4 linked regions of the Homo sapiens genome follow. The protein of the gene in region 4 interacts with the protein of the main gene of each other region in a pairwise test. Each region holds a gene or a part of one and is shown on either strand. Other genes may lie near its edges.

Evidence for each region.
Region 1: the proteins of SUSD3 (region 4) and TMEM47 interact in binary tests that used the Homo sapiens proteins (3 or more experiments, as listed by UniProt).
Region 2: the proteins of SUSD3 (region 4) and TMPRSS4 interact in binary tests that used the Homo sapiens proteins (3 or more experiments, as listed by UniProt).
Region 3: the proteins of SUSD3 (region 4) and TMEM11 interact in binary tests that used the Homo sapiens proteins (3 or more experiments, as listed by UniProt).

What each region holds. Positions count from the first base shown.
Region 1 is NC_000023.11:34,626,422-34,633,555, reverse strand, and holds the end of TMEM47 (transmembrane protein 47), read left to right. Parts: intron 1-3,064; coding exon 3,065-3,243; 3' UTR 3,244-6,481; downstream 6,482-7,134. UniProt on the Homo sapiens protein: Regulates cell junction organization in epithelial cells. May play a role in the transition from adherens junction to tight junction assembly.
Region 2 is NC_000011.10:118,072,654-118,080,191, forward strand, and holds the start of TMPRSS4 (transmembrane protease serine 4), read left to right. Parts: upstream 1-4,424; 5' UTR 4,425-4,649; coding exon 4,650-4,652; intron 4,653-7,538. UniProt on the Homo sapiens protein: Plasma membrane-anchored serine protease that directly induces processing of pro-uPA/PLAU into the active form through proteolytic activity.
Region 3 is NC_000017.11:21,197,341-21,204,471, reverse strand, and holds the end of TMEM11 (transmembrane protein 11, mitochondrial), read left to right. Parts: intron 1-5,631; coding exon 5,632-6,148; 3' UTR 6,149-6,518; downstream 6,519-7,131. UniProt on the Homo sapiens protein: Plays a role in mitochondrial morphogenesis.
Region 4 is NC_000009.12:93,061,521-93,068,943, forward strand, and holds part of SUSD3 (sushi domain-containing protein 3), read left to right. Parts: intron 1-840; exon of another isoform or gene 841-1,895; intron 1,896-2,966; exon of another isoform or gene 2,967-3,089; intron 3,090-6,581; exon of another isoform or gene 6,582-6,631; intron 6,632-7,423. UniProt on the Homo sapiens protein: May play a role in breast tumorigenesis by promoting estrogen-dependent cell proliferation, cell-cell interactions and migration.

The sequences.
Region 1 (7,134 bases), on a different chromosome or scaffold from region 4:
TATGGTTCACAGGCTGTCCATGAACCACGAAGGGCCCCTGCTGTTTCTTCCATCATATCTCATGCTTCTCCCTTCCTGCTCTCTGTACTGCAATCACAGCCTTCTGACTTCTGTTCCAGTGCACCAGATATGCTCCTGTGATGGGAGTTTTGCAGTGCCTATGCCTTTCACGTGGGAATGCTCAGTCCCCACTATGTTGTTCTGCACCCCCAATTCATTCAGATCTGTGCTCAATATCTCCTCCTCAGAGCAGCCTTCTCTCACGATTGATCTAAAAGAGCAGCCCTCATCCCTGTGTTCTGTCTGCTTTCTTGCATTTCTTGTCTCTTAGCAATATGTGACATTATATTCTATATTTGTTTACTAATGGACTGACTACCCATGAGAGTAGCAGCTTTGTCTCTTTTGATAGCATAATGCCTTAAACTGTATCGCTTTAGAAACATTCAGATATTTATTGAATGGATGCATTTATTGAATGAGTAAATGAATTACTATACCTAACCCACATTCTTGTTTCAGTCATATCCTGGTAGGATCAGTACAGATTTGACGAGTGAACAGAGTATAGAAACCTAAGGAGAAGTGCCTTTTTTTTTTCAAATGTACTTGGCAACTTTGGAATTTTCTTCTCTGTAGTTATGGTTGATAGTAATTGACTTCTTGTTAGTTTTAAGACATTTAAAACATGAAAGCTCCCTTTTCCTCACAAAGGCAAAGAGCCAACTGGGCTTTTTTTAAAATTAATGCACATTTTAGCACTTACTAACTGGAAATAGATGAAGTGTGGGTCATACAATATGCCGTCAGCTGAGTCCTAACAACAACCAAAACCTTTTCTGAGAAGGTCTGATTTCTATTTTGGATATCAGTAGGGTATCCTCTTATACAAACTTACTTGTGTATCCACTCTCAGTAGTAATGGTAGGCAAAGTGCTGACTCAGCAGTGTTGTGCTACACGGCAGAAATGTTGGGTGTTTTTATATCTAGTTCTAGGTCGGTCCTTTGACACCTAGCCAGAGCCTTATAGAAAGAAATTTTGAGGAATCATTTCCTCATGAATTTGCTGTATTTCATCAGTTTTATGGGAGAGAAAGATGACTGTTATGTAGACTTTCTAGGAATCTTCATCATACTGGTAATAATCTTTTACATGGGCTAAAAATAGATGAGAGTACATTTTAAAACATAAAATTCCATTTTAATTAAACACTCTATCCATCCTAGTGTTCTTTTTTAAAACATATAAGCGATATCAAAACTATTTATGTATATAGTTTTACTATGTCAGTTTGTTCCCTCCTTTTCTTTAATTATTCACATTTTTGTTCTTTTCAGATGAATTAAACAAAAATTATTTTACCCCCTAAAATTATTTCATATATCAGAGGTTAGCAAACTTTTTTTGTTAAGGGCAAGAAAGTAAATACTTTTGGCTTTGTGAGCTGTGTGGTTTCTTTTGCAGCTTCTCAACTCTGCCATTGTTGCATAGAAAATACGTAAATGAATGAGTGTGGCTGTGTTCCAGTAAAACTTTTTCAAAAACAAAAAGCAGACCAGATTTGGTAGTTTGCCAACCCCTGTTAAATATAACTGTACTCTGTATTTTTTAGGGAAAAAGATTGTCTATTTCTTGAGGGTGGAAGCTGTCCTATGGTAGAGAATGAAGCTGTAGTTAACTAATTGTAGTTAAACTAATTAAAATAAAATTACATAATAATTGATCTAATAGGAAGTTAAGAATTTTAAGTGGAAGACATTATGTCTTGTGCATATCCACAACATAAATTTCATTTTATTTTAGATAGTAGAAACAACACAAAACAAAACAAAAACAAAATAAACATTCCCTTCCTGATTATTTTGGTTTATTTTATTCGGTATGACTAATCATATTTCCCCTTTGGCCCTGACAGAAGTAGGATCTAACCAGGGACTAAGAGCTAAGTTTTGACCTCTGTTACAGTAGCCATAATTGGCCTAGGTTTTCCTGTACCATTATCTCTCTTGCCTTTATCGACTTAATTCTTTTTTGAAAGTAGGTGGAAAACAGATATGAAAATATCATCTGTTAATAACTTTTAAGCCACTTTTTAAAGACAAGAGGCATAGAGTGGATGAGAAGAAAATAATGAAAGTAGCTTTGGATCAGAGTAATGTAAGCAAAGACATCATGGTGAGACTTTCTGGCATATTGGGCTGAGTTAGTATTGCAAAGCAGCAACAACATCAAAAGCACATTATCACTCACAGGATGACCAGTTGCATCAGTAGAAATTAATTTGAATTTCCTAATTCCTTAATAGCATAAATAAATAACAAGAGTTTCAGTTGGCATTGGGGTCACTATTCTTTTTTTTTTTTTTTTTTTTTTTTTTTTTTTTGAGACAGAGTCTGGCTCTGTCGCCCAGGCTGGAGTGCAGTGGCATGATCTCAGCTCACTGCAACCTCCCCCTCCCTGGTTCAAGCGATTTTCCAGCCTTAGCCTCCTGAGTAGCTGGGATTACAGGTGCACACCACCACACTGGGCTAATTTTTGTATTTTTAGTAGATACGGGGTTTCACCATGTTGGTCAGACTGGTCTCGAACTCCTGACCTCATGATCCACCTGCCTGGGCCTCCCAAAGTGCTGGATTTACAGGCGTGAGCCACCGCACCTGGCTGGGGTCACTATTCTTGAGGAGCTACTTATACGGTTTATTAGTGGCACAATTTAGTTTAACTAGTACTACTTGCCATAATAATAATGATAATTATATTTTTAAGGTGAAAATCACTACTTTGTATGCTCATATAAATTATTATATTGCACTAATTATTTTATCTATACTAATAATGATTTACTAATTAATAGGATAATTCTTATATATTGGGAAAAGGTATTTAAACAAAAAAATTATTAGTATTTTAAAGTATACCATCTAGAACAAGCCATCTTTAAAATTTTTGGCTTTTATGTATATTTGATTACAAAGTTACTCTCATACATATATAGTTACATATTTATATTATTTTATTTGCTGCAAATAACATTTTCTAATTTTGATTTGCTTTTCTTTCAGTTGTTTTACAGGTTTGCAGCCTGGTCCTTTACCCAATCAAGTTCATTGAAACTGTGAGCTTGAAAATTTACCATGAGTTCAACTGGGGTTATGGCCTGGCCTGGGGTGCAACTATATTTTCGTTTGGGGGTGCCATCCTTTATTGCCTGAACCCTAAGAACTATGAAGACTACTACTAGAACCAATAGTCTCAAAGTAAAAACAACCACCACCATCCAACAAAAGGATTACGTCTGCATCTTTTCTAACTTACTATTTTCTAAAACACTTGTGGAGCATCAAGCAGTTTGCTCAGTTGATTTAATCTTTTTTGCCTTTTGGCTGTCAACATCATAACCAGCTTTTACATCCATTTTAGAAATCTGCACAAATTAAGAGAGCTGATTAGACATAGGCAAATGCTGCAAACTTCCAATATGTTCATATCGTTTTTCTTGACAAATGAAGGGTCTATATGACAGCAACCATTGTGAGAAACTAGTTGGAATGAGATTTGCCTCAATCTCCTATTGCCTGCAGGGGAGCAGTTGGCATAAGCAACATTTAGAAGTTCCTTTGCGCTGACAAGGATTCCACTGTTAGAGCCCTTACCGCCTGCTTATCCTACCCAATGACTACATTGGCTGTTGGTTATTTGCTTGAGTGAGCCCTTGAAAAATGAACTGCCCTTCAGCATCTAATGGGAGTTGTGAATGTAACTGGTTAATGATACACATTCCACCTTCAGGAACACTCTTTTTAATGGGAGGTTATGCTTTGGCAATCAGCGTCTCCCTGGGAAGAGAGTCAAGACTTGGAGACATGTGCTTCTCATTATGTGGTTAGAAATTGGTGCCTCAGCCCTATCTAGACTGGGGAAAAATTGAGGATCTCTGTTTTTCCTGGGGCAAACAGAAAGAAATCTGCATGAGTTGCTTTTGTACCCTTTAAATCATTTGCCAAACATTGCAGCAAACAAGTGTGCGTATGTAACAAGCTTCACTGTTTTTATAGAAGGTGAACCATTAGTATAAATGGTAATAAGTTGTTCCCTAACCCTCCACATACATTTGCCTATCACACGTAAAATTAATATTTACTCTAGTGAAGTGGTTTGAGCACTAACCTTGTACACATTGTTAAGAGGCTTAGATTGGTATTCATACTTATTTACCATACAAAAGTATGGTACCTTAAAGCTTTTGCTCTATGTTCTTTACTGTTTCACTGGAAAGTGTCAATAGAGTTGCCTAAGAATAAAAATTGAAATGGTGTTAATCTGAAAATTAATGATTCTCTGTAAGCACTGTAGTTGAAAAGAGAGTAGCAATTAGGATGATCATTTTGTGTAAAATTCATTAAAATAGAAGGCTGCTATTTTTTGCAAGTATTTTAAATGTCTTCATTTTTTTAAGAAAGGAATAGCGATAGATTTATATAAATATCTAAATGTCTCAGTAGAGGAGTAGAATTCATCTGGTTATCACCTGGTCCTCTGAAGTTAACTGATGGGCTAACCGATTTGTGCACACACTTAGGATGGATTTATGTTAAGGGAATTACTTACTGACTGTTCAATGGAAGGAAGTATTAATAATAGGGAATAAGTTTGCAACTAATCTCATGCTGCAAACTTGTGTTAATTCTGTTTAATATACAAATTTGGATAGCTTAATTATAAACATATTTTTATATCAAATATACAGTTCTAATATAAAAGTTATAAATAATTATTTTTGTTAACAAAGACACTAAAACAGTATGTTCTGGTTTTGGCCCTCTTGCAGAAAGAAGCATTAGAAAAATTACTTTAAAAGTAGCTATATGTTACTGTATTGCAAAATCTGTTAAGAGCAGGACCACATCGATAGTATTTAATAATTTGTTTTACCTCCCAAAACACAGTTCTTCTTTCAGCTTGTCTTAAGAATGGTTGCCAAAAACAACAGCCAAAAAAAAAAAACCTATTTTATTATCCAAATGCTAGAAAACACACATGAATTTTCTATAAAATCACGAATATGAAGTACCAGGTTTAGTCTTACTTTAGCAATGATAGACAAAAGCGAATAAATACATCACAGACAGAAACCTTTATAAAAATATATGATTCTATAAAGAATCATTAGAAATTATGAGTGGAAATTCTCCAGAAAGATAGTATTATAGAGTCTTTTGAAGCAATTTTTTGAGAAATAGTAAAATCTGGGGCAGAGTGTCTTGCAGTTAATTGCATATTGTCAGAGCAGCATGAGAAATATGATATTTGGATAGGGATTTCAGCAACTAAACATTCTCTGTTCTGAGATCTCTTTATTCCTGAATAATGAAAGAATAGTACTTTGGTGCTGACACCAATGAGGCACTTCTCTTGGTCCTAGTAGAGGATGCAGTGTACTGTTAAACCAATATCATCACATCTCGAGTCTTATCAAGTTTTCATTCTCTGTCAATATGACAAGCTCAAAGTGACAGAATATGTTATAGGTTGAAGCACACATATTTGCAGTTTACTGAAAAGTAGATTTCTTATGTGACTTTTTTCCCTTCTCAGCAAAGAGCCCTACACTAGATTTCTACCATCACTAATATTTGGAAGTATTTCATTACTAACAATCTCAGTACAACATGAAAATTGTTGCTTCTCATCTAAAATACAATTTTGTCTATCAGAATAAACACAAGTGAAATTTTCACCTACATTAACATTATGTCTTTGCAGCTTTAGGTTTGTTAGATGTGTTCTTAAGCATAATTTTTAGCCACAAACCCATTGTTAGATAGATATCTATGGATATAGATCTACATCTATAGATATAGATATACACACATATATATACTCACACACATATAGCATAAAATACTCAGCAGGGCTAGTTATTCCGATTTCTTGCACAATTATTTAGCTTTTTGTAAGTTCAACATGTAAATTTTAAAGACATAAATATAGAGAGACTTATGTGTTTGAATATAAATGATATATATGGATTAGCATGTACCTGTATATTATTAAACATGCAATGAACTGACTGGTAAGTGACGTCTAATTGTATGGCTAGCAATGTAATTTATTCAGACTGTATTTTTGTACAGAGCAGTGCACTCTAACCTATGCCTCTGTGTCCTCTTTAATGCCTAAAGCTGTGCCTAGAAATTTCATCTGTCTTAAAAGTAAAATATACTTCATGCTGTTTATGCTATTAGTTTCTGTACTGCTATTCTATATTTATTATTTTTAAATATATGACATGTTTACTACTTAAACATGAATTCATGGTATCCTGGTTATTTTTTTTAAGTCATCTGGGGGAAAACCTGTTTATCACTCCAGTGATTTTGAGTTTGCAGTTTCACAATCAGTTCTTCATTTCATGATTTTTGTAGTTGACATGAAGTCATCTATGTGGAAAAAAATAAAAATAAAAGTGATTTCACGGATGTGGTTTGAATTTGTGTCGTCTCTGTTGTGTAAACTCTTTAGACAACGCTTCTAAATTACATATATTCATTACATTTTCTCCTTCAAAATATATATTATTTAGAAAACATCTTAATATGACATGCTGATTTTACTTGAAAACATTTTTAAATTTTTTATTACAAATTATCTCCCAAGATCCTTCTATTCTCCACAGCCTTTGCACGGTCAGTGATAAAGGGATACTATTAAATATCTTTTATAACCTTCTGTTTTAAAATGTACTCAAAGGAGATGTAGTGCAGGCTTCCCTTATTCCGACTCTAATCACACAATTGGAAATGATTAGTCAAAGGGTTTGATATGGTATTTTGTTCTTTGTGTAGTTTTCAACGTTTGCAGAGTGTTAAAGCCAGCTTGTCTGTATTATCTCTTAGAAAGACTAAAAATTCAGTGTGTATGTGTGCATGAGTATGTGTGCATGAACGTGTGTGCATGAGCATGTGTGTGTGCAATGTGCATGTGTGAAGAAACTGATAAAGTCAAAATTCATCACCCTTTGATGTATATAAATGGTGAGAATATGTGAAAAAGCAATTTAAATTAGACATTCAATAAAATTCACTTGCATGTATGCCAATTTTTTTTTTTCCTGAAAAGGAGTCTCACTCTG
Region 2 (7,538 bases), on a different chromosome or scaffold from region 4:
ACCCCCAAGTGTTCTCTTTTTATCTCTACTAGAACATCTTTTTAAGCTTACTGTGATGTGTGGATGTCTCCTGTCTCCTTCAGTAGACTGTAGGGTGTTTGTATTCAGAGCCTGTGTTTTATCTCCTAATCCACAGTGCCTAACACAAGAGGTAGGCCTAGCATGAGCTCCATAAACACACATTTTGTGAAATGAATGGGGATAACAGTGCCATTTACAACATCTCTCTTAGGCACCAAACACTTCACATGGAAGTGAAGGTCTTGTGTTGTCGTTGTTGTTTTTGAGACGGAGTCTCGCTCTGTCACCCAGGCTGGAGTGCAGTGGCAAGATCTTGGGTCACTGCAACCTCCACCTGGGTTCAAGCGATTCTCCTGCCTCAACCTCCTGAGTAGCTGGGATTACAGGCACCCTCCACCACGCCCGGCTAATTTTTTTGGTATTTTTAGTAGAGTAGTTTGGTATTTTTAATAGAGGTTTTGCCATGTTGGCCAGGCTGGTCTCAAACTCCTGACCTCAAGTGATCCACCTGCCTTGACCTCCCAAAGTGCTGGGAATACAGGCATGAGCCACTGCGCCCAGCCAGGATTATCTCTTAATCTTCATAACAACCCTATGAGGTCAGAAGTATTGTTATCCCCACTTTACAGATGAAGAAGATGGCGTGCAAGAGGATTAAATAAGATGCCCATGGTTACGCAAATCATTAGTGGCTGAGATTAGGAGGCAGGACCCCAGGCCACTAGAGCTCAAGCTCTTGACCAGGGAGGATTCAGGTTTTGAGAGGCCTGAAGCTTATGCATTTTGAGGGGCTTGGTTTTTTTCAAAAAGCAACAGACTCTTTAATGTGGTTTAAAATACATCCAGATCAAGTCCCCGGCTGTTGTGAATGCCGAAAAGAGACAAAAAAGCTGCCGGTGCAGCTTCAAACAAGTCTGAGCGTCAGGCTGGCCCATAAGGAAAGCAGTTGCAGGGACAGGAGGCAGCCCCCTCCTCCAGGAAGGGCAACAGGAGCAGCCGGGTGCCTGCCTGTCCCTGGGGTGACCGCCTCTGTGCTGTGCAAGGCGGGAGGGCTGTGGCAATAGGCCTTGGACCTCCCCCATGGACACCAGCGAGTTCCCCTGGCCTCTGGGTCAGCCCTCAGCAGCGCCGCCATGATGGGGTGGAGGAGGGTTAAATAACCATCTTTACAGAAATAATATTCTCCTGCAGAACGTGTCTGAGCTCAGACCATTGTCCAGAAACCTCATAGAAAACAAACAACAAAGTTTTTTAAAGTGCTGCTGACACCTCTCAGAATCTGGTGTGCATAGAGCTCTCAGCTGGACGAGACCTGTTGGTCCTTAAACTGAGGTCACCTGTATGGGACCAGCCTGGGTGAGGAAGGCTCTGGCCTTCACTCACAGGGATAGGCCACTTCTTGAGGGGCTTTCTTGAAGAAAAAGCACGTCAAAGAAATATTCAGCAAAATTTACAAAAACGTATGATTGTGTGAACATATTGCCGGGCCCTTTCCCAGGGCCCTGGAAGGAACCGTGCAAGTGAGGGGCTCTGAAGCTTCAGCTTCAGGAGTTTCATGATAACTCTGCCTCGGATCTTGACACACATGCTGGAAACAGATAAGGAAAGGGAAGAAGGAAGAGAAAAAAATGTCAAAAATAAAGAGGAAGAGATAAAAGAGAAGTAATGGGAGGGAAAGAAGAGAGGAAAAACAGGAGGAGGATCTAAAGAGATGGATGGGCAAGAGAAAGAAGCAGGCAGGACAGGGCTGAGGGAGAGCTGAGGCTTCCTCCGGGAGAATGGGGGTTCTGGGCCGGGTGCGGTGGCTCACACTTGTAGTCCCAGCACTTTGGGAAACCAGAGCGAGTGGATCGCTTGAGCTCAGGGGTTTGAGACCAGCCTTGTCAACATGGTGAAACCCTGTATCTACAAAAAATACAAAAATAAGCCAGGCATAGTGGCTCACACCTGTAATCCCAGCTACTTGGGGGACTGAGGCGGGGGAATCCCTTGAGCTCAGGAGGTGGAGGTTACAGTGAGCTGAGGCTGCACCACTGCACTCCAGCCTGGGCAACAGAGGGGGACCCTGTCTCAGAAAAAAAAAAAAAAAAAGAATGTGGGTTCTGGTCCAGCTGGTTTTCCCTGGCACCTGGGAGAGGTGGGCCTCTGTTGTCTCCAGGCCACTGTGCCTCCCTCTGTAAACCTTCACCCCCACCTGCAGGCATCACAGCCACCCTGCCCAGTCCTGCTTATGTGCCTTCTTCCCGGACCTCTCCACAAACTCCCAGACCCAAATGGGAGCAGAAGCCAGGAGGGCTGAGTCATCATCCCTCCAACCAGCCATGCCCAGCAGCCTTCATGCCCAGACAGCTGCCTCTTTCCTGGTTCATCACCTGAGCACCAGGTAAAGCAATGCAAACCTGTGGGCCAGATGTTTAGCCTGGCACATAGAGGAACCAAGACAACTGAAAACGTGGCTCCCAGTGGCCCACTGGCTTCTCACTGCCCTGCTGCTGGGGAGGTGCCTGCCTGGACCATCACGGCCCTGACCCTGAGGTCACCTGAGATCACAGGCTCTTGCCTCTGCCCAAGACTTCCAACTCTCAAGGCCACCAGCCATCAGTAAGGAAGGGCTGGGGCTGTGCTGGCTCCAGAGCCCTGCAGGCCAGCTTCAGATCTCTGCTGCTCAGAGACAAGTCCAAGGCCACACTGCATTCATCAGCTGAGATTTGGCCAATAATCCATTACACAGATCCGGTATTCCTCCTGCTCAGACATCACTGGGGTCCTCCATGGGCCATATTATCCCAAACCATGAACCTGGGGCTTTCAAACACTTGTGTTCCATTCAGCCTGTTCACAAGCCTGGCAGTGTGAACCAGTAAGAGAACCAGGTTCCAGCCCCAACTCTGCCCGAAACTACTTCATGTCCATAGGCTATAGTTTCCTCAGCTGACAAATGGGAACAAAATATTGGGGTTGTTGTTGGAGAATTAAAGGGCTGATACACAGAAGCACGTTATCAACAGAAGGACAAATACACACGTCTAACCCAGGCTGGTCTCCTGGGAGGGTCAGGTCTGAGAAATGGAAGGAGATCTGGATTCATATGGAACCAGACACTAATTCATTATGTGACTTTGGGTCATTGACTTTGCCTCTCTGGAATTTAGTTTTGTCGCCCACAGAATGGGGGAACAATGTGGACAATTATCCAAGTCTCTCCCAGCAAAATATCTGTGGCTGTAAGGTTTCACCTTGCACATCCCCTGGCCAGGGGGCAGCTCCAGCTATCAGGATGTGGCAGAACGTGAATCAGAAATGATCCTGTGGGGCTGGGTGCGGTGGCTCACGCCATAATCACAGCACTTTGGGAGGCTGAGGCAGGTGGATCAGTTGAAGCCAGGTGTTTGAGACCAGCCTGGCCAACATGGCAAAACCCCATCTCTACTAAAAATACAAATTAGCCAGGCATGGTGGCGCACAACACCTGTAATCCCAGCAGCTACTTGGGAGGCTGAGGCAGGAGAATCACTTGAACCTGGGAGGTGGAGGTTGCAGTGAGCCAAGATCGCGCCACTGCACTCCAGCCTGGGCAACAGAGACTCTGTCTCAAAATAAAATAAAATACAAAAACACAAAACTTAGCTGGGTGTGGTGGCAGGTGGCTGTAGTCCCAGCTACTCGAGAGGCTGGAGCACGAGAATTGCTTGAACCTAGGAGGCGGAGGTTGCAGTGAGCTGAGATTGCGCCCCTGCACTCCAGCCTGGGGGACAGAGAGAGACCCTGTCTTAAAAAAAGAAAAGAAAAAAAGAAAGAAAGAAAGAAGGAAATGACTCCGTGGACGAGGAGACGTGGGCTCTAGCCAGAGCACCAATAGTGATTTTCAGAATATTGAACGGCTGCTGAGGCAGGGGCAGGAAGCACTAGTACATTGGCTCTGTGCAGGACAGCTTCACTTCTGGGATCCAGGGAAAGGGGGTACATCTTACCTCCCTAAGAGAAGAAACTCCCTCCTTCTCTGTGGACTTTCCAATCCTATTGCTCCACACCTGGCAATGATCTCTTTGTACTGAGCTGCAAACCCTGTCGCCCAACCCCCAGACCACTCCAACTTCCCACAACCCCAAACCAAAGCACCCACACAGTGAGAAGTCATGCACCTAGAAGGTAGGGGGAGGGGGGGCGGAAACTTCTGGCATCACCCTCAGCCAACACCCAGTTGGGTGGAAGTCATTCAGGCGGGAAGGCTTTTGTTACGCCTTAGGTGTGTCACCTGTTCTGAGGCCGAAGGTCCCATGAATGACTTCAGGTGTTGTTCCAGCCCCTAAGATAGGTGTCAGGTTACAAGACACATAATCATTCCAGTTTGGCAACTTCACTTGTAGGGCTGTTTTAATCAAGCTGCCCAAAGTCCCCCAATCACTCCTGGAATACACAGAGAGAGGCAGCAGCTTGCTCAGCGGACAAGGATGCTGGGCGTGAGGGACCAAGGCCTGCCCTGCACTCGGGCCTCCTCCAGCCAGTGCTGACCAGGGACTTCTGACCTGCTGGCCAGCCAGGACCTGTGTGGGGAGGCCCTCCTGCTGCCTTGGGGTGACAATCTCAGCTCCAGGCTACAGGGAGACCGGGAGGATCACAGAGCCAGCATGGTGAGTGTGGGGCCCTCTGCTCCCAAGACACAGGAAGGGTGGGTCTCCCCATGTAAGGCCCTTCAAGCAGCCTGAGCATCCATCAGCTGAGAATTCTGTGACACCTTCTAGGTTAAAAAAAGAGGCCACACCCAAATCCCCTCACACCCCAGCCCGGTACACGTCTCATACCCACCTGCCTTCCTCTCTTCCTCCATTGCCATGGTCCTTGGACCAGCTCACCTAAGAAGCTGAGCACAGAGCCAGGGCTGTCCTTCCCGACTATTCTTTCCTGAATCCTGCATGTTCTTTTGCCCAATGTCTCCAGGTCTGTTGGTTAGAGGTTGGCACTATTTTTCCAAGGCAGGGGGCTGTTCTGATGCCACGGTTGCCCTCTGCCACTCCCTGGGGAAACTGATTCCTTTTCTTTTTAAAGAAAAGTGTAGACTGGGTGCAGTGGCTCACGCCTGTAGTCCCAGCACTTTGCGAGGCTGAGGCAGACAGATCTCTCGAGGTCAGGAGTTTGAGACCAGCCTGGCCAGTATGGTGAAACCCCATCCGTACTAAAAATACAAAAAATTAGCCAGGCGTGGTGGCAGGTGCCTGTAATCCCAGCTACTTGGGAGGCTGAGGCAGGAGAATCGCTTGAACTTGGGAGGCGGAGGTTGTGGTGAGCCAAGATTGTGCCATTGCACTCCAACCTGGGCAACAAGAGTGAAACTCCGTCTCAAAAAAAAAAAAAAAAAAAAAAAAAAAAAAAGAAAGAAGGAAAAGAAAACAGTGCAGAGATGCCTCCAAACAATCTAGGGTGTTTGTGGTCATCTTTTACTTGGTCTCTTTTCATGCCCTCACCCTCTCTCCTCCTCCTCTGAATACCTGGAGCGTCTTCGCTGTCTTGGGGCAAAGAGAATCAACCCTATCTTTCAAGGAGGACAGCTGAGGGCCAGGGAGGGGAAGAGATAATAACTGGGTCTGAGGAGGAACCCAGGGGTCTTCCTTCTCCAGTCCTTGGCCAAGAGGCAGCAATTGCCCAGCCACCAAAGTGAAAGGGAAGGGAAGAGAGGAAAGGAGAAGCCACTGTCCAAGGGGGAAGGGTGTGACCTGCAGGGGCCCCTCGAGTGATTGTCTCCTATTCCCAACCTGAGCACTTCCCACGACACTCTTCTGAAAATTCTGGCAAGAACAATTCTTAGTGCGGTTGTAGCTGATGATCAGAAAGGGGAAGGGGCTTCCCTTTGAGCCAGGATCAAAGCACAAGCTTCCTGCTTTCCCATCCAAGGAGGCGCCCCAAAGTTTGGCCTGTGTGCAGAGACGCTGTATCCCCTGGGGCTCCCAGGAGAGGAGAGCAGCTGTGGAGTCTACCTAGCTGTGAGCTGCTTCTGGGTGGCAGGCACTGAGGAGACCTGGGGTGTCTCTTGGGGGAGCAACAGAGAAGGGAATCATTTCTAGGGCAGGTCACTAACTGCAGAATCAGAAGGCTGAGGCCAGCTCCCTGATTAGCTGTGCTGTCTTGAGGCATTCATCTTCCCGAGACTCACCTTCTCCCCTGCCCACGGAAACGATATGACCCACAACAGCCCCACGCACATGCACCGGGTTCGCAGAGATTACACAGCTAATACATGTGAGTAGGTTCTGGAAACCATGAAGCCCCGCACAGATGTAAGGACTTAGGACTAAAGAGGAGTCTGTGCTAGGAAATGACAGCTGGGTAGTACACCCAACACAGACCCTTTGCCACCAGGGAAGGAGCTGGGCATTGCTGGAGGAGCGGGGGAGGGCAGGTGGGAACACTGGTGGAGGGGTCAGGTCAGGCCTGGGGCCCCAAAGGCAAGGCAGCAGCATGGCCAATCTCCACGGTGTGGTCAAGGAAGTTTCTAGCCCCGGAGCTAGCCATTATACTGCCTGTGCTGAATAACCCTGTCATTAAGCCTGTGCTTAATAACCCTTGACAGCCATAGCTCCCAGCCCTGAGGGGAGGATGGGATCTCCACACCCAGGCTCAGCCCTCCCTTCCCTTCCCTTCCATTCCCTACCTCCTTCCATCCCCACAGGCCCCTTTCTGTGACAGTCAGGGTCCTTTGAGCTGCTGCGTCTTAATGACAGCTCTCCCAAGAACCCATTAAGCTGGGTATTCCTAGGGAGAGCTGGAGCAGGGACTCAGGCCCAGGCAGAGGTCAGAGCCCAAGCCCTGTCCCCGAAGGAAATGTGTCCCATGCTAACTACTCCATAGCTGAGGCCTGGAGGGAAGTCAGGGACCCTGGGACTGGTTATCCTGGCCTTGACTCATTACTGTTCCGGAGACCTAAACGCACCCTGAGCCACCAGACGTGGGTGTTAACACCTGAGGTCAACCCCCTGACGCTTCCGGCTGCTCTGGAGGAAGCTGGTCCTCCCTCCCACCTCCTGTTTTCCGTGCCAGCCTGGTACAGAGTCAAGGGGCTTGGCTGGGCTTGGCTGGGCTCAGAAACGTGGCAGTCAGGAGCCAGCCTGCGGGCAGCGGGGTGCTGGGAGCACTGCAGGGTCCACCCTGACTGGGGCACAGAATCCAGAAGCCCACTCGGCCCTGGCAGTGCCATCCTAGGCTCTGAGGTGGTAAACTGAGCTGGGCAGTGGGAAGGTCCTAAAGGGCAAGACAGGCAAGGAGGGGCTGCTTGCTTTGCCTGCTCTCCTGGATCCTTTGCCACCTGGGTGACAGGGCCTGGTGTCACTGTAACCACTCCCCCCCCACCAAAAGAAGCTCCAGCCAGACACCATTTAATCAGCCCCTTTCATTGGCCAGCCTCTAAATGGGGCTGGGGATTGGGAGGACCCAATACCTAGGTTTCACCCTGCAGGTGCTCAACACAGAGTGTGACAAGTATAACACCAGCAGTGGTTACAAGGTACCCCTGGAGCTGAAAAAGC
Region 3 (7,131 bases), on a different chromosome or scaffold from region 4:
TACCTTTTTCTCTTTTTTTTTTTTTTTTTTTTTTTTATTGAGACGGAGTTTTACTTGTTGCCCACGCTGGAGTGCAATGGCATGATCTCAGCTCACTGCAACCTCCGCCTCCTGCGTTCAAGCAATTCTTCTGCCTCAGGCTCCCAAGTAGCTGGGATTACAGGCACGTGCCACCAAACCCAGCTAATTTTTGTATTTGTAGCAGAGACAGGGTTTCACCGTGTTAGCCAGGCTGGTCTCGAACTCCTGATCTCAGGTGATCCGCCTGCCTTGGCCTCCCAAAGTGCTGGGATTACAGGCATGAGCCACTGCACCTGGCCACTTTTTCTTTCTTTTTTTTTTTTTTTTTAAACATAGACTCTATTAATTGCTCTCTTACTGGTCATTTCACACCTGCAATGAAAAGCAAAAATACAGTCCCTTAGGAAGCCCAGGGCTCAAAAGATTCCAACTAGCTCTTACTTAAAAAAAAAAAAAAAAGTCCATATAATTTAAAAAAAAAAAAAAAAAGGAAAAAAAAAGATCTCCCATGCACCAGGGTTCAGATCACCCAGTTCCTAAAGCCCATGGCCTTACCAGTTAGGGGGCAGCTGGTGATGCTCTGCAGTGGTTTGAGATAACCTTCTGACTGGGTTCTTTCCTTCATTAGGTTTTGTTTGACCCACAAGCAGAAGCAAGCCATATACGGGTGGCTGCTGGGTGGTCAGGAGCTGGCTGGACGTGGCTGTCTCCTGGGAGTACTTGGCAGTTTCTTTTTTCTTTTTTTTTCTTTTTTTTCTTTCTGTCATTCAGGCTGGAGTGCAGTGGCACAATCTTGGCTCACTGCAACCTCTGCCTCCCAGGTTCAAGTGATTCTTGTGCCTCAGCCTGCTGAGTAGCTGTAATTACAGGTGTGCAGCACCGCGCCTGGCTAATTTTTGGTAAAGACGGTTTCACCTTGTTGGCCAGGCTGGTCTCGAACTCCTGACATCAAGTGATCTGCACACCTTTGCCTCCCAAAGTGCTGGGATTACAGGCGTGAGCCACCGCACCTGGTCATGGCCACGAATTTCTGAAGTAAGAGAAGTGCAGCAGTCCCTGTCAGCAGTGCAGACCTGAACCCAAGGGCCCAGCAGTGGCAGCTAAAAAACCTGTGTCTGCACTGACAGCACCCCACTCCCACCAGTGTACCAGGAAGTTGGAGTGCTGACTGCCTGGTCGTGGCCGGGTGAGCTCCAACGGAGGGATCCTGCGGCTTTGGGTGCGTCTGTGTGTGTTTTGGTTTGAACCTTACCGTCTCCATATAGGGTCTGTTGCCTTATAGAATCCTAGAAATCCACTTCCCTAGACTTCACGTGTTGTCCTTTCCCAGTGGAAACCGAGATTCCCTTTGCCTAACTGGCTTTAAAAGCAGAATTGGTGAGCCTCTGGCCTCAGCGCCGTTGTGCAGGACCCTGCCTTTGTTTGAAGGCAGTGTGGCTTATGTCCTTTGTGTTTCTGCTGTGGATAGGTGTCTTAGACAGTGGGCAGCAACAGTGCCCAGCCCATATGAAGACGCCGAGGCTGCAGGAGGCCGGGGCCATGGTTTGACAGGCAGGTGGGGGCAGACCCACGCCACCATCTCAGGATGTGTGCTGGCGAGTGCCCCCATGTCCACGTGCTTGCTTATGGCTGTGTCATTCACAGGACTGCCCACAGCCGAGGGCAGAGGATGCCCAGTCTCCTCACTCCCTGTGCTGGGGGGCGGGCCACACCTGGCAACAGCAGTGAGGTGGGAGGGAGCCTGGAGGGCCTTGGCTTCTCGCTGCTTCCAGGCTGGTTGGGACTCGTGGACGCACCCACCCATCCGTCCCAGCAAGCGATGGAGCCTGCAGAGGGGTCTGGGTGGATGTGGGTGCCAGCTGGGCTTGCAGGGGGGCCGGAGGGGGTGAGGGGGTGGGATCTGCCCACTGCTGTGTTTCCAGATGGGGCAGTCGGTTCCAGGACCGGGGTTTCCACTGGAATTTCCTCTGTGGGACCAACAGTGGTTTTCACTACATTCAGGATGGCGCTGGCCTGCTGGGCAGAGAAAGGTACCGCACTAGGGTGGATTTGGGTGTTGGCGAGAACATTGTGTAACCCCAGCTTGACACCTCCCTTTTGCTTTGAGTGTTCCTGAGGGAGGAAGCCCGCCTCTGGTGCCCGCCCCAAGGTGTCCCTGGCCTGGCTTTGACAGTCAGTAGGATGCACAGCTGACTTGGAAGCAACTCCATTTCCGTCTCAAGATTGGGACACGATTTGGTCCTCCACCCCTACCTTGTTATCTGGCCTCTCTGCTCCTGTTGCCTGATGGACTTGAGACCAGAAGGGAGTTCTCTTGGCCAGGAGTGCTCCCACCTGAGAGTGGAGGCCCCGCCCCTCCCCGCACACCCAGGGCCACAGCCAGCCCATTGCGCCACCGCCACTCATTTCTCATCTGAGCACGTGGGGGCACTGCTCGGCCTTCAGCTTTCCAGCGCCAGTGAAGACCCTGCTTTGGGTGTGCTTGTTTGCTGTAGGTAGCTTCTAAAATGCTGCATCTGGCTGGATGCGGTAGCTCATGCCTGTTAATCCCAGGACTTTGGGAGGCCAAGGCGGGTGGAACACTTGAGCCCAGGAGTTCGAGACCAGCCTGGGCAACATGGCATAACCCCATCTGTACAACAAAATTTTTTTAATTAGCCAGGCAGCCAGGCGTGGTGGCACATACCTGTAGTCCCAGCTACTCGGGAGGCAGAGGTGGGAGGATCTCTTGAACCCGGGAGGTCGAGGCTGCCATCAGCAGAGATCACACCACTGCACTCCTGCCTGGGTGACAGAGCAGGAACCTGTCTCAAAAATAAAAACTGTTGAATCCTACCTGGAAGTAACAGCTGGCCTCTCCCTTACCTCTCCTCTAAGACCAAATGGAAAAACTCCACCGAGAACTTTAGAAGGAAAACCCTCCTTTCCCCATTTCATAAGCTGCTCGTGCAGTCTTACAGTAACAGCTCATCATTTCATCCCTGGCGAGGCAGCCGTGACACTGGCACAGTCACAGGTGGCTTGGCAGCAACCCATGTTTAGGAGGCTCTTGTCCCACCCTCAGGGCACTGATTTCTCCCCAGTGCATGCCGTTTAATTAGGGCCTATGATTGAATTAGGAGGCTTTGCCTTAGCCTGGCTTAGTTACAGTGACTTTTTCAGGATAAAGAGTTCCGTTTGCCCAAGTCCAAGCCAGTGCCTTTTATGAAAGTGGTTCCCACCCAGGGGCGGGGTTAGGGTCCCCATGCTTGGGGGCACAGTCAGCCCATTACCAATGACTTTCATCTTTAATGTGGCCACATGAGATCGTTAACTAGTTGTTTATCCAACCAGAATGCAACCCTGCCTGTTAGGTTTGCTTATTTGTTTGCTGAAAGCTTTGAGCTGGGAGGAGTCTCAGTAGTAGGAAGAACTACGATTGCCTGTTCTTTTTCCTTGAAGTTTCCCGACAGTCCGATTTCCACCATCCTTCACTTGGAATTGCTCCCATCTTTGAAGGAGGCTGGAGGGAGTTACCTTCATGCTGGGCTGAGGTTCTGGGGTGGCTTGTTATGAATGTCTTCACTCGTCACTCCCATATTACGGCCAATGGCCAGGTGGCTCAGCTCCCCATGACTCTCCTCTGCACCGCAGCCAGGTGTGCCTGCCAGGACAGGCTGGGCGGACGGGACCTTCGCGTCTGTGCACACTGAGGGCTGTGCTTCTCGTTAGCCATGAAAGGAAGCTAGTTCCTGTCAGGCACATTCGGAGCTTCAGGTACATGGGCCACATTGACCCTTGTGTTGCCTGGTACAGTGTTCCAGAGCCTCCCAGTTGGAAGGGCATGGACTCCAGCAGGGGAGCAGTGACCAGCAGGTCCCTGGAGCCTTGTGTCCTTTAGTCAGATGGGTCCGACCATCCTGGGGACCAGGGTGTGCTGAGGGAAGGGGCAGCTTTTCCCTGAGGCATGTGACAGAACATGGCTCTGTGCAGCCTTGGGAGCCATGAGTTGGAAAACTTGATCCAGCCTCAAGAGCTATGTCTAGCAGTGTCCCCGTCAAGGCCCAGATAAAGACTTCTTGCAGATGAGCAGATAACGGAAAACTAGGATGTGGGGTGACGGTGCGGAGATTCAGAGAGATCTGTCTCAGCTGAAACCAGCCAAGGAAAGATGACAAGGCATGGATAGCCCTGTCTTCAGGCCTGCCCGCCACAGGTGAAGAAGATTCTGCTTTGGGTGGGAAATTTGTACCGCAGAGGCCTGAAACCAAGAAAAGCAAGACTGCCTGAAATGCAGCTTGGCCCACGGTCACTGCTGGGGCTGCAGCCGGGCTGCCGTCTGGCCTTGCTGCAGAGCTGAGCGTTCCGTGTGGTGGATTACTCTCCTGCTGGTTGGGGTCATGACATGCATCCCCAGTCCCGGGGGGGAAAGCCCCTTGTGTGGTCTCCGTGGCAGTGTTTCTTATGCAAATGAGTGGCATTTGCCGGTGGTGCAGGGGCCTGGGCCTACAGGGCCAGAATTGGTGGCATTGCTGGGCTGGATGTTTTGAAGCCCCTCAGTTGACCCTCCTGCTTACTAAATTTGGAGCCCACTACTGTTCTTGAAGCGTTGTCTTTTCCTAATTCAAGGAAAGGGTCGCTTTTCCTATGCAGTGGGCTAGTGTCCTGGGTCTCCTCTTCTCCCCTCCGCAGCGGGGAGGAGCTGGGGGCTGCTGCCGGCCCAGGAAGGGCACCCAGGGCTTGTGCAGCCTGGCCTCCAGGAGAGCCAAAGGAGTTTGGATTTCATTCGCCCAAGGCAAAGCTCTTCCTTTCTGCCTCTGTTCTGCAGGCCCAGGATGACTACTTAGGAAACGTGCGGAGGGCAAGGGCTTAGCATTATCTGTCCTGAGGTCTGTGGTTTCCAGTGAAGAATCCTCTTGCAGTTGCCCTGATTAACTAAGAATGGCTTTCAGGCTGTTGGCCCTCTGCTGCCGTGTGTGCTCCTGTGATTCTGTGCCGAATCGTTCTTTCCCCTTTAGGCTCCTTTGCTGACTCAGATCAGTTGGTCCACAGCCTTAGGCTAACCACCAGGCCTGTGTTTGTCATGTTAAACGTCGAGGCACTGCTTTTCCTGCCTTTTTATATCTTTTTTTTTTTTTTTTTTCTGAGACTGAGTCTCGCCCTGTCACCCAGGCTGGAGTGCAATGGCACGATCTCGGCTCACTGCAAGCTCCGCCTCCCAGGTTCAAGTGATTCTCCTGCCTCAGCCTCCCGAGTAGATTACAGGGATTATAGGCATGCGCCACCACACCTGGCTAATTTTTTTTTGTATCTTTAGTAGAGACAGGGTTTCACCATGTTGGCCAGGCTGGTCTCTAACTCCTGACCTCATGATCCGCCCCCCCGGCCTCCCAAAGTGCTAGGATTACAGGTGTGAGCCACCACACCCAGCTTTATTTCACTATTTTCAGGAAAAATCCTTTTTACTGATTATCTTGTGTTGGGATTTAAAGGAGATGAGGACCCAAGTGAGATGTGCTCTCCGCAGTGCAGGCTCAGACCTCCCCCAGCGCTGAAACACAGTTAAGTGCTCCTCAGCCTAATCATCCTGTCTCTCTCTCTCTCTCCCTTTCCTGCCCCCTCCATCAAAAGGGTGAGCTTGTCGGCCACAGACTGCTACATTGTGCATGAGATCTACAATGGGGAGAATGCCCAAGACCAGTTTGAGTACGAGCTGGAGCAGGCCCTGGAAGCCCAGTACAAGTACATTGTGATTGAGCCCACTCGCATTGGCGACGAGACAGCCCGCTGGATCACCGTGGGCAACTGCCTGCACAAGACGGCCGTGCTGGCGGGCACCGCCTGCCTCTTCACCCCGTTGGCGCTGCCCTTAGATTATTCCCACTACATTTCCCTGCCCGCTGGTGTGCTGAGCCTGGCCTGCTGCACCCTCTATGGGATCTCCTGGCAGTTTGACCCTTGCTGCAAGTACCAAGTGGAGTACGACGCCTATAAACTGTCGCGCCTGCCTCTGCACACACTCACCTCCTCCACCCCGGTGGTGCTGGTCCGGAAGGACGACCTGCACAGAAAGAGACTGCACAACACGATAGCACTGGCCGCCCTGGTGTACTGTGTAAAGAAGATTTACGAACTCTATGCCGTATGATTTCAGTAGAACAGGGAGCGAAGCAAAACCACCCGGCCCACAAGAGACAACAGAGTATTCAGATCGCCACACTCTGTGAGGCAGCAGAGCCTGGGCAGGTGTTTGGCTTAGTATTTGTTATTTTTAAAAAATAACAGATCACGGGTGTACCCAGGGTTTTTCAGCTCATTACACTAAGATGTGGATTTCCATAACCCAAGAGGGGGGTCTGAGGCTGTGGAAGTCCGACTGGGCAGTGGAATGCTGATGGAGGCAGACGCTGCCGAGGGGGTGTGGACGTGCTTTGGGGGAGGTCTTTAAGTCTATTGTTTAACTGTACCATCCAGAGCCCACCAGAAGCTATTGATCATTAAAATTATGAGAATTTCAACTCCCGCTGTTCTCTCTTTCCATGACTGCCCGCAGCTGCTGCTGCACATCTGCTCTGGGTGGCGGCTTGCACATGGAAGGAGCAGGTGCCATGGTAGCCACCCTGCCCTGCTCCTAGCTGCGGCCCAGTGTTACCACTTACAGCGACGACAAGCCTAGATCCAAGGTAGTCCTGGGGCCAAACCCCGCCCAGGAGCAGTCTCCTGGCTCACCTTGGCCTCATCATTCCGAAGGCCATCACTGCCACCATGCTGTTCAGGAACATGGTAGGATAAGGTGACGAGGCTTGGAGGCCTTTGGGTGTCCACTTGAGTTCACGTGGGGAACTCTGGGCTCCAGGATCGCTCTTCAGAGATCTGAACACCTGTGTTTTCTTTGAAGCACCAAAACTCTTCCTACTGTGGACCATGAGTTTATTAACCCATTGCCCTAGGCTGACAGAAGAGCCCTCGGAGCAATCTTGGAAGCACCCCCTGGCCTCAGTGCTCGCTGTTCCACAGGAGCCAAGCCGGTGCTTCTCCCTCACACCAGAAGGTAGACTGTGTCACCTGCCACATTTCCTCTAAGGCAGGGGTGGCCAATCTTGACTTCCCTGTGCCACATTGGAAAAAGAA
Region 4 (7,423 bases):
TCCTGAGGCCACCCTGCTGCTCAGCCTGGAGATGGAAGGCAGAAGTGGCTCTGAAGCCTGTGCTCACCCTCCATGTGGAGATGGGCTCAGAGAGGGCAAGTGACTTACCTGAAGACACACAGCCAGGGCTGTGGGACACCCACATGTAGTGTTGGGGCCAGGCCTGTCCCCACTGCCAGGGTCTTGGGGGTCCTGTTCTCAAAGCACCTCTGTGTGCAAAAGTCACCCCCTTTAAACTCTGAGAAATTCCTCCTGAAGGTTCCTGTTTCACATTTGGGGGAACTGAGACCCAGATTGAGGTCACACAGGGACTCACTGGCAGGTGGGGATCGAGTCTAGGTGAGACTGGGTTCAGCAGCCTGCCTCTGTCACTCTCTCCCACAGCCTCAGCCAGCATAAAAGGGAACATAGTTACTTAATCCCACAGCAGGCGAGGTCAGGTTATAGGGGCTGTGTGGCGAATCCCAGGAGGGAGGATGGAGGGGCCGACCTGAGGTCCAAGGTTCCAGATAAAAGATTAACAAGTACGGATTGTTCTCAGACGCCCGGCTGGCCTCACAGGCTGGGAGGATGAGAATCCACCCGGTCAGGCTTGGCCCCCTCCGTACATAAGGCCAGGGAGGGAGGAAGCGCAGCTGCAGCAGGTGGCCAGGCAGAGGCGCAGGCGCGGCATGTGGGCTGAGGGCCGCTCAGGCATCACACAGGTGTGGCCCTGAGGTACCCATTGGTCCTCTCCACCTGCCCCTGAGCCGTGGGAGGGCCAGGCAGGGCCTCGTGTGTTTTTATTTTGTATCTTGTTTGCATCAAATCCGTTTTCTGTTGTTTTTCCCTCTTCTTTAAGATTTACATGCAAAGGGATCTAAAGGGTGCCAGGTAAGAAATGCCCCAGCACTAGGCTGGCAGACCAAGGGCAGCCACAACCATGGGCTGGGGAACAGCAGGTGGGTAGGATGGGGCTGGAGGGCAGGACGGATCCAGAGAGGCAAGGCCTCTGCCTCCAGCTTTAGGGAACAGACATCCTCAAAGACAGCTGGGGTGTGGGGTCCTCTGCAGGGGTGAGGCACAGGAGGGCCATCTGCAGGCAGCTGGGAGTTCATGAGTATTTGAAGCAGGGGAGGGGACAGGGGACAGATGGGATCTGCCTCTCATGCATCAGGCATGGGGAGGGGCTCAGGAGGTCAGTGAGGGGTGGCCCTGGGTCCCCTGGGAGTCCGGGAGTCTCTGTGTGAGCAGGACTTGGCTGTGCGGTGGTTAGAGACAAGGGTGATCCACCAGCTCCATCCTCATGCCTTGGTGATTTCTTGGAATGTCCCTGGGAGTTGGGTGCAGGTAGAGACTTTGTAGACCATAGCTCCTGGCACTGTGCTGCCTGCCTGCCCCATCCTGGCTGTGAGTTCGCTGTGAATCCTACGGAATCCTGGCTGTGAGTTCGCTGTGAATCCTATGGAAAGGGCTACCCCAAGGGGACAGGAGTCCAGCCTCCTACTCTTGGCACTGCCATCATGCAGCCAGGGGCCTTGGGCAGGTTTGTGGGCCTCAGTTTCCTCATCTGGAAAATGGAGCCAGCCCAGAGAAAGTGTTTCCTGGCCTCCCAGGCTCAGGAAAGGAGTACAGGAGACCCCACTGGGGCCTGGAGGGTTGAAGGTCCCCTGTATGCTGCAGACCTTGGGGATCAAGGGCTAAGGGCTGAAGTTTCCCTGTGTTCCATGGACCTTGGGGATTGAGGCCCAGGGCCCCAGTAGGGCTCATGTCCTGGGCTGCTCAAGCCCTGACCTAGGGAGTGATCCTGTGCACCAGATCCTGCTCCAAGATCTCCATAGGGCAGTCCTGCTCTTCCCAGACCCCAGGCGGGCAAGTCACCAGTTTTGCAGACGGGGAAGTTGAGGCTGAGCCAGGTGAGAAATTCAGGTCCAAGACCTGCTGCTGGGATGGGTCTTGTCAGGATCAGACCCCAGGAACCTACTGGTTAGCCCTCCAGGAAGCCTGCCCACCCAACTGGGGGCTAAGAGGGGGCATTGCCGGTCAGTGGCTTCTCTTTCTGTGGCCCCTGCAGCAAGAGAGGCCACAGGAACATGACTTTGCCTCCCTGTGCCCCCTTGGCTGAGGGCTTAAAGGAGGTTGGACCTCTTGGCCACCCTGAGGAGGCAGGTCAGGGCTGTGAGCCTTGAGCAAGGACTCACCCTACCCTCCCTCCTACCAGTTACTTCCCCCAGACCCTCTGCTTGACTTATAAAGGAAAGCCATTCCAGCAGTGCACTTACATTAGGACCTGGGCATGAGACCCTTCTTCTGGTCAGCTGGCTACAAATGCAGGGTCTGAGGCCAGGACTGCGTTTAAGGCCCCCCAGCCCCACCAGGCACCATCCTTCTCTGCTCATGGACAGTTGGGCTGGCATCAGTTTTACTGGGCTTGTATTCCAAATCGTTCTATACTTTTATTTGAGTTTTTAATTTGACGGCGCATCCCGGACTTCTTGTAGGTCAGTGTTACCTCGCTGGCTGGTCCCCTTTCTTTGGTTGTGGGTGGTGACTTCACCTTTTTTTTTGAGACAGAGTCTCACTTTGTCAACCAGGCTAGAGTACAGTGCCGTGATCTTGGCTCACTGCGGCTTCTGCCTCCTGGTTCAAGCAATTCTCCTGCCTCAGCCTCCTAAGTAGCTGGGACTACAGGTGCACACCGCCACGCCTAGCTACTTTTTGTATTTTTAATAGAGACAGGGTTTCACCATGTTGGCCAGGATGGTCTTGATCTCCTGACCTTGTGATCTGCCCACCTTGGCCTCCCAAAGTGCTGGGAGTACAGGCGTGAGCCACCGCACCCAGCCGACTTCACCCTTTATCCCCCACGTCTGTGAGGCTCAATGATGCAGGCAGGACAGGCTCTGGGGATGCTGGGAAGGGGATGCTGGGAACAGCTTGCCTGCTGTTGATGCCTGTCACTGTGACATGTAATCCACCACCTGCAGTTGCTGTCTGAGGACAAGAGCCCTCACTATAGCAGAACCTGGCGGCTGAGAACACAGGATGTGGCTTTTGGCAGATGAAGTGTGAACCAAGACAAGACCTTGGTCGACCTCAGACATAGCTAGGTGAGAGCCGACTGGTCAACCTCAGACATGGCTAGTCATGAGCTCCCCACAGGGCTCAGCACAACACACGGGCGGGCAGGGGGAGGAGCTGCTCCTTCTAAAACACACTTAGAGGAAGTCAGCTGTGGAGGTGGCCTTGCTGGGATGATCATCATTTCATCCAGTCCTCGCCCCACCCTGCCTGTTGTGGTATTTGTAGGTGGAGACACAGGCCCAGGGTGGAGAAGTGACTGGGGTCTTCTGGAAAGGCCGGGCCTACCCTCAAACCCAGGTCCTCTGGCTCCAGAGCTGGTCCTGGCTGCCTTGAGTGCATGGGAGGCCCTGGCGGTCACATCCGTCTTGTTTGAGAGAAAGCTATGTCCCCGCGGTGACACACAGTCTCAGTAGAATAAGTCCTAGGGATCAGCCCAGTGCCCAGACCGCTCAGCAGTGGTTAAATGTCTGGGTCCTGGATGGGGAGTGGTATGGCCACCCCTTCCCTGGGACCCTGGTGGGTGGGAAGGGGATGTGCCCAGGGGATCAGTTACATGTCAGCAGTGGGGATGCTCAAGGTCTTCCGCCAGCATTTTTCTTTTGAACGTGCAGCAGAGTTGAAAGAATTTTATGCCTGGACACGCACCAGCTTGATTCCACCCTTCGCATTTCGCTGTGCCTGCTTTCTCACATCTGTCTCCATCCCTTGGTCCACCCCTCCAGGCATCTCATTATTCTAATGAAGTTCTAGTTTTATTTTTAAAGAATGAATTCACGTTCATCCATTCATCCTCTCACTGGGCAGACACTCAACCAGGCGCTGTTGTGGGTGCTGGACACACTCACCCTCGCCAACCTCTCCTCCCATCCGCCAACGGCTACTCCCAAACCTCTGGCTGGTGGGGCCTCCTCTCTGCAAGGGCCGCAGTGGGCTGGGAAGCCACAGAGGAATGCAGAAGTCGCAGCTCTAAATTAAGGACTGGGAAGTGTTGGCTGCCTGGCGGCCCTGGGGAGGGGGCCACGTGGCCAGCCCGTGGCTGCCCTGCTGTGTCTGCCAGGGCTCCAGAATCCCATAGCCACCTCCTTGGCCAGAAGGACAGTGCATATACAGATCCCAAGATCCTGAAAAAGCAAAGTGGTCCCTGGCCCTTGGGGAGTGCTGATCACGACTCTTGCCTGTGAGGTGAGGCTGCCAGTCCTCCATTCCTTTGTTCTTGCATTCATTCATTCACTCATTCCTGCACTGATGTCTCCAGATATGGAGCTTGGTAGTTGACGGAGAGCCCAACCCTGGAGACAGAATTCAAGTCCTAGCTGTGCCACTGGGAGCTAGGTGACCCAAGGCCAGCGAGAGTCAGCCCAGGGTTATAGGAAATAGCCCAGGCCAGGGGTTAGAGCTGTACCTGGCACACAGGTATGCTCAGCGTCAGCTGTCATCCGCCCAGCATCCCTGGGAGGTTCTGCCTCCTGCTGATCTCAGTCCTGCCCACCATGCCCTCCATCCCCCTGAAGGGCAGGGCAGCTCCTCAGGCCCTCCCCACTCTGTGTACCGCCCCTAGAAATTGTGCACCCCTCCTCTGCAGCCTCCTCAATCTGAAGGGCTGATCTTTTTAACCCTGACAGAGATAAGAAGCAAAAAAAGTATCTTCAGTTGCTTTTTCTTTTTTTGGAGATGGAGTCTCCCTCTGTCGCCCATGTTGGAGTGCAGTGGCATGATCTCAGTTCACTGCAACCTCCACCTCCCAGGTTCAAGGGATTCTTCTGTCTCAGCCTCTTGAGTAGCTGGAACTACAGGCGCACGCCACCACGCCCAGCTAATTTTTGTATTTTTAGTAGAGACAGGTTTTCACCATATTGGTCAGGCGGGTCTCAAACTGCTGACCTCATGATCCGCCTGCCTCAGCCTCCCAAAGTGCTGGGATTACAGGTATGAGCCACCGTGCTCGGCCAAGTATCTTCAGTTTTAAATGTGTATTTCTTTAATTGACATATTTTCCCCCTGATTTTTTAAACAGCTTTACTGGGCCATAATTCACATACCATACAATTTACCTTTTTAAATCATAGAACTCAGTAGCTTTTGTACATTCACAGATATGTGCTACCATCACTCCAGTCAATTTTATTTTATTTTATTTTATTTTTTGAGACGGAGTCACTCTGTTGCCCTGGCTGGAGTGCAGTGGCACAATCTTGGCTCACTGCAACCTCCGCCTCCCGGGTTCAAGCGATTCCCCTGCCTCAGCCTCCTGAGTAGCTGGATTACAGGCGTGCACCACCACACCCAGCTAATTTTTGTATTCTTAGTAGAGATGGGGTTTCACCGTGTTGGCCAGGCTGGTCTGGAACTCCTGACCTCAGGTGATCTGACCGCCTTGGCCTCCCAAAGTGCTGGGATTACAGGTGTGAGCCACCATACCCAGCCACTCCAGTCAATTTTATAATGTTTTTAATCACTGCATAAGAAGATCCCATACCCCTTAGCAGCCATCTCCCAGTTTTCCCTTTCCCCCAGCTTCTGACAGCCACTAATCTGCTTTCTGTCTCTGGATTTGCCTGTTCTGGACATTTCATATGAGTGTCATCATATGACATGTGACCTTTTGTGTCTGACTTCTTTCACTTAACACAGTGTTTTCAAGGTTTATCCATGTTGTAACATGGATCAGCACTTCATGCCTTTTGATGATTTAATAGTACTCTGTGGTGTGGATAAACCACATTTTGTTTATTCACTTATTGGTTGACAGACATTTAGGTGTTTCAGCTCTCTGGCCATTACAAATAATGCTGCTGTGAACATTCGTGTACCCATTTTTGTGTAGACAGGTATTTTCATTTCTCTTGGCTGATTACCTAGCAGTGGAATTACTGGATCATGTGGTAATTCTGTGCTTAACTGTGTGAAAAACCACCGGACAGTTTTCCAAAGCTGTTGCACCATTCTGTTCCCAAACTAGTAGCTTCTGAGGTGCCAGTTTCTCCACATTTTTCCTAACACTTCGTATTGTCTGTCTTTTTTTTTTTTTTTTCTTGAAACGAAGTCTTGCTCTGTCCCAGGCTGGAGTGCGGTAGCCTGATCTCGGCTGACTGCAACCTCCGCCTCCCAGGTTCAAGTGATACTCCTGCCTCAGCCTCTCAAGTAGCTGGGATTACAGGGGCCCACCACTACGCCTGGCTAATTTTTGTAGTTTTAGTCGAGACAGAGTTTCACCCTGTTGGCCAGGGTGGTCTCAAACTCCTAACCTCAAGTGATCCAGCCACCTCGGCCTCCCAAAGTCCTGGGATTACAGGCGTGAGCCACTGCGCCCAGCCAGCTATTGGTATTGCCTATCTTTTTGACAGACTTCCTTGTGGTTTTGATTTGTATTTCCCTGAAGGTTAATAATTTTGAGAATCTTCTTGTGCTTATTGGCTGCTAACTTATCTTTTTCAGAGAAATGTCTGTTCAGATCCTTTGGCCATTTTTCAATTTTGTTGTCTTCTAATTGAATTGTAATAATTCTTTATATGTTCTAGACACATGCCTCTTATCAGATACATGATTTGCAAGTATTTTCTCCCTATTGGTAAGTTGTCTTTTCACTTTATTGAATGTCCTTTAAAGCACAAACATTTTTCATTTTGATGAAGTCCTGTTTTTATTTTTCTTTTGGTGTTTGTCTTTGGTGTTAGATCTAAGAAACCATTGCCTAAGTTTACAAAGATTTTCCCTATGTTTTCTTCTAAGAGTTTCATAGTTTTAGCTCTTACTTTTAGGTCTTTGATTCATGTTAATTTTAGCATATGGTATGAGCTAGGGGTCCAGCTTCAGTTGTCCCAGCATCAGTTTGTTGAAAAACTATTCCTTTCCCATTGAATTGTCTTGGTACCCTTGTTGAAAATCATTTGACTATAAATGTAAGGGTTTACCTCTGCACTCTCAGTTCTATTCTGTTGGCCTTTATGTCTGTCCTCATGATAGTACCACACTGTTTTGATTACTCTAGCTTTGTAATACATTTTGAAATTGGCAAGTGTGAACTCTCCAACTTTGTTCTTTTTCAAGAGTGTTTTGGCTATTCTAGGTCTTTTGCATTTCCATATGAGCTTTAAGATCAGCTTGTTGATTTCTGGAAAGAAAGCAGCTGGATTCTGATAGAGATTTTGTTGAATCTGTATATCAGTTTGGAGAATACAGTAGATTCAATGAATACAGTAGATACAGTGAATATAGTAGATACAATGTATCCAAGGGGGATACATTCCAGGACCCCTCAGTGCATGCCTGAAACTTCAGATACTATATATGTTGTTTTTTCCCTAAACACATGTACCTATGATAAGTTTAATTTATAAATTGAACAGAGTGAAAGATTAAT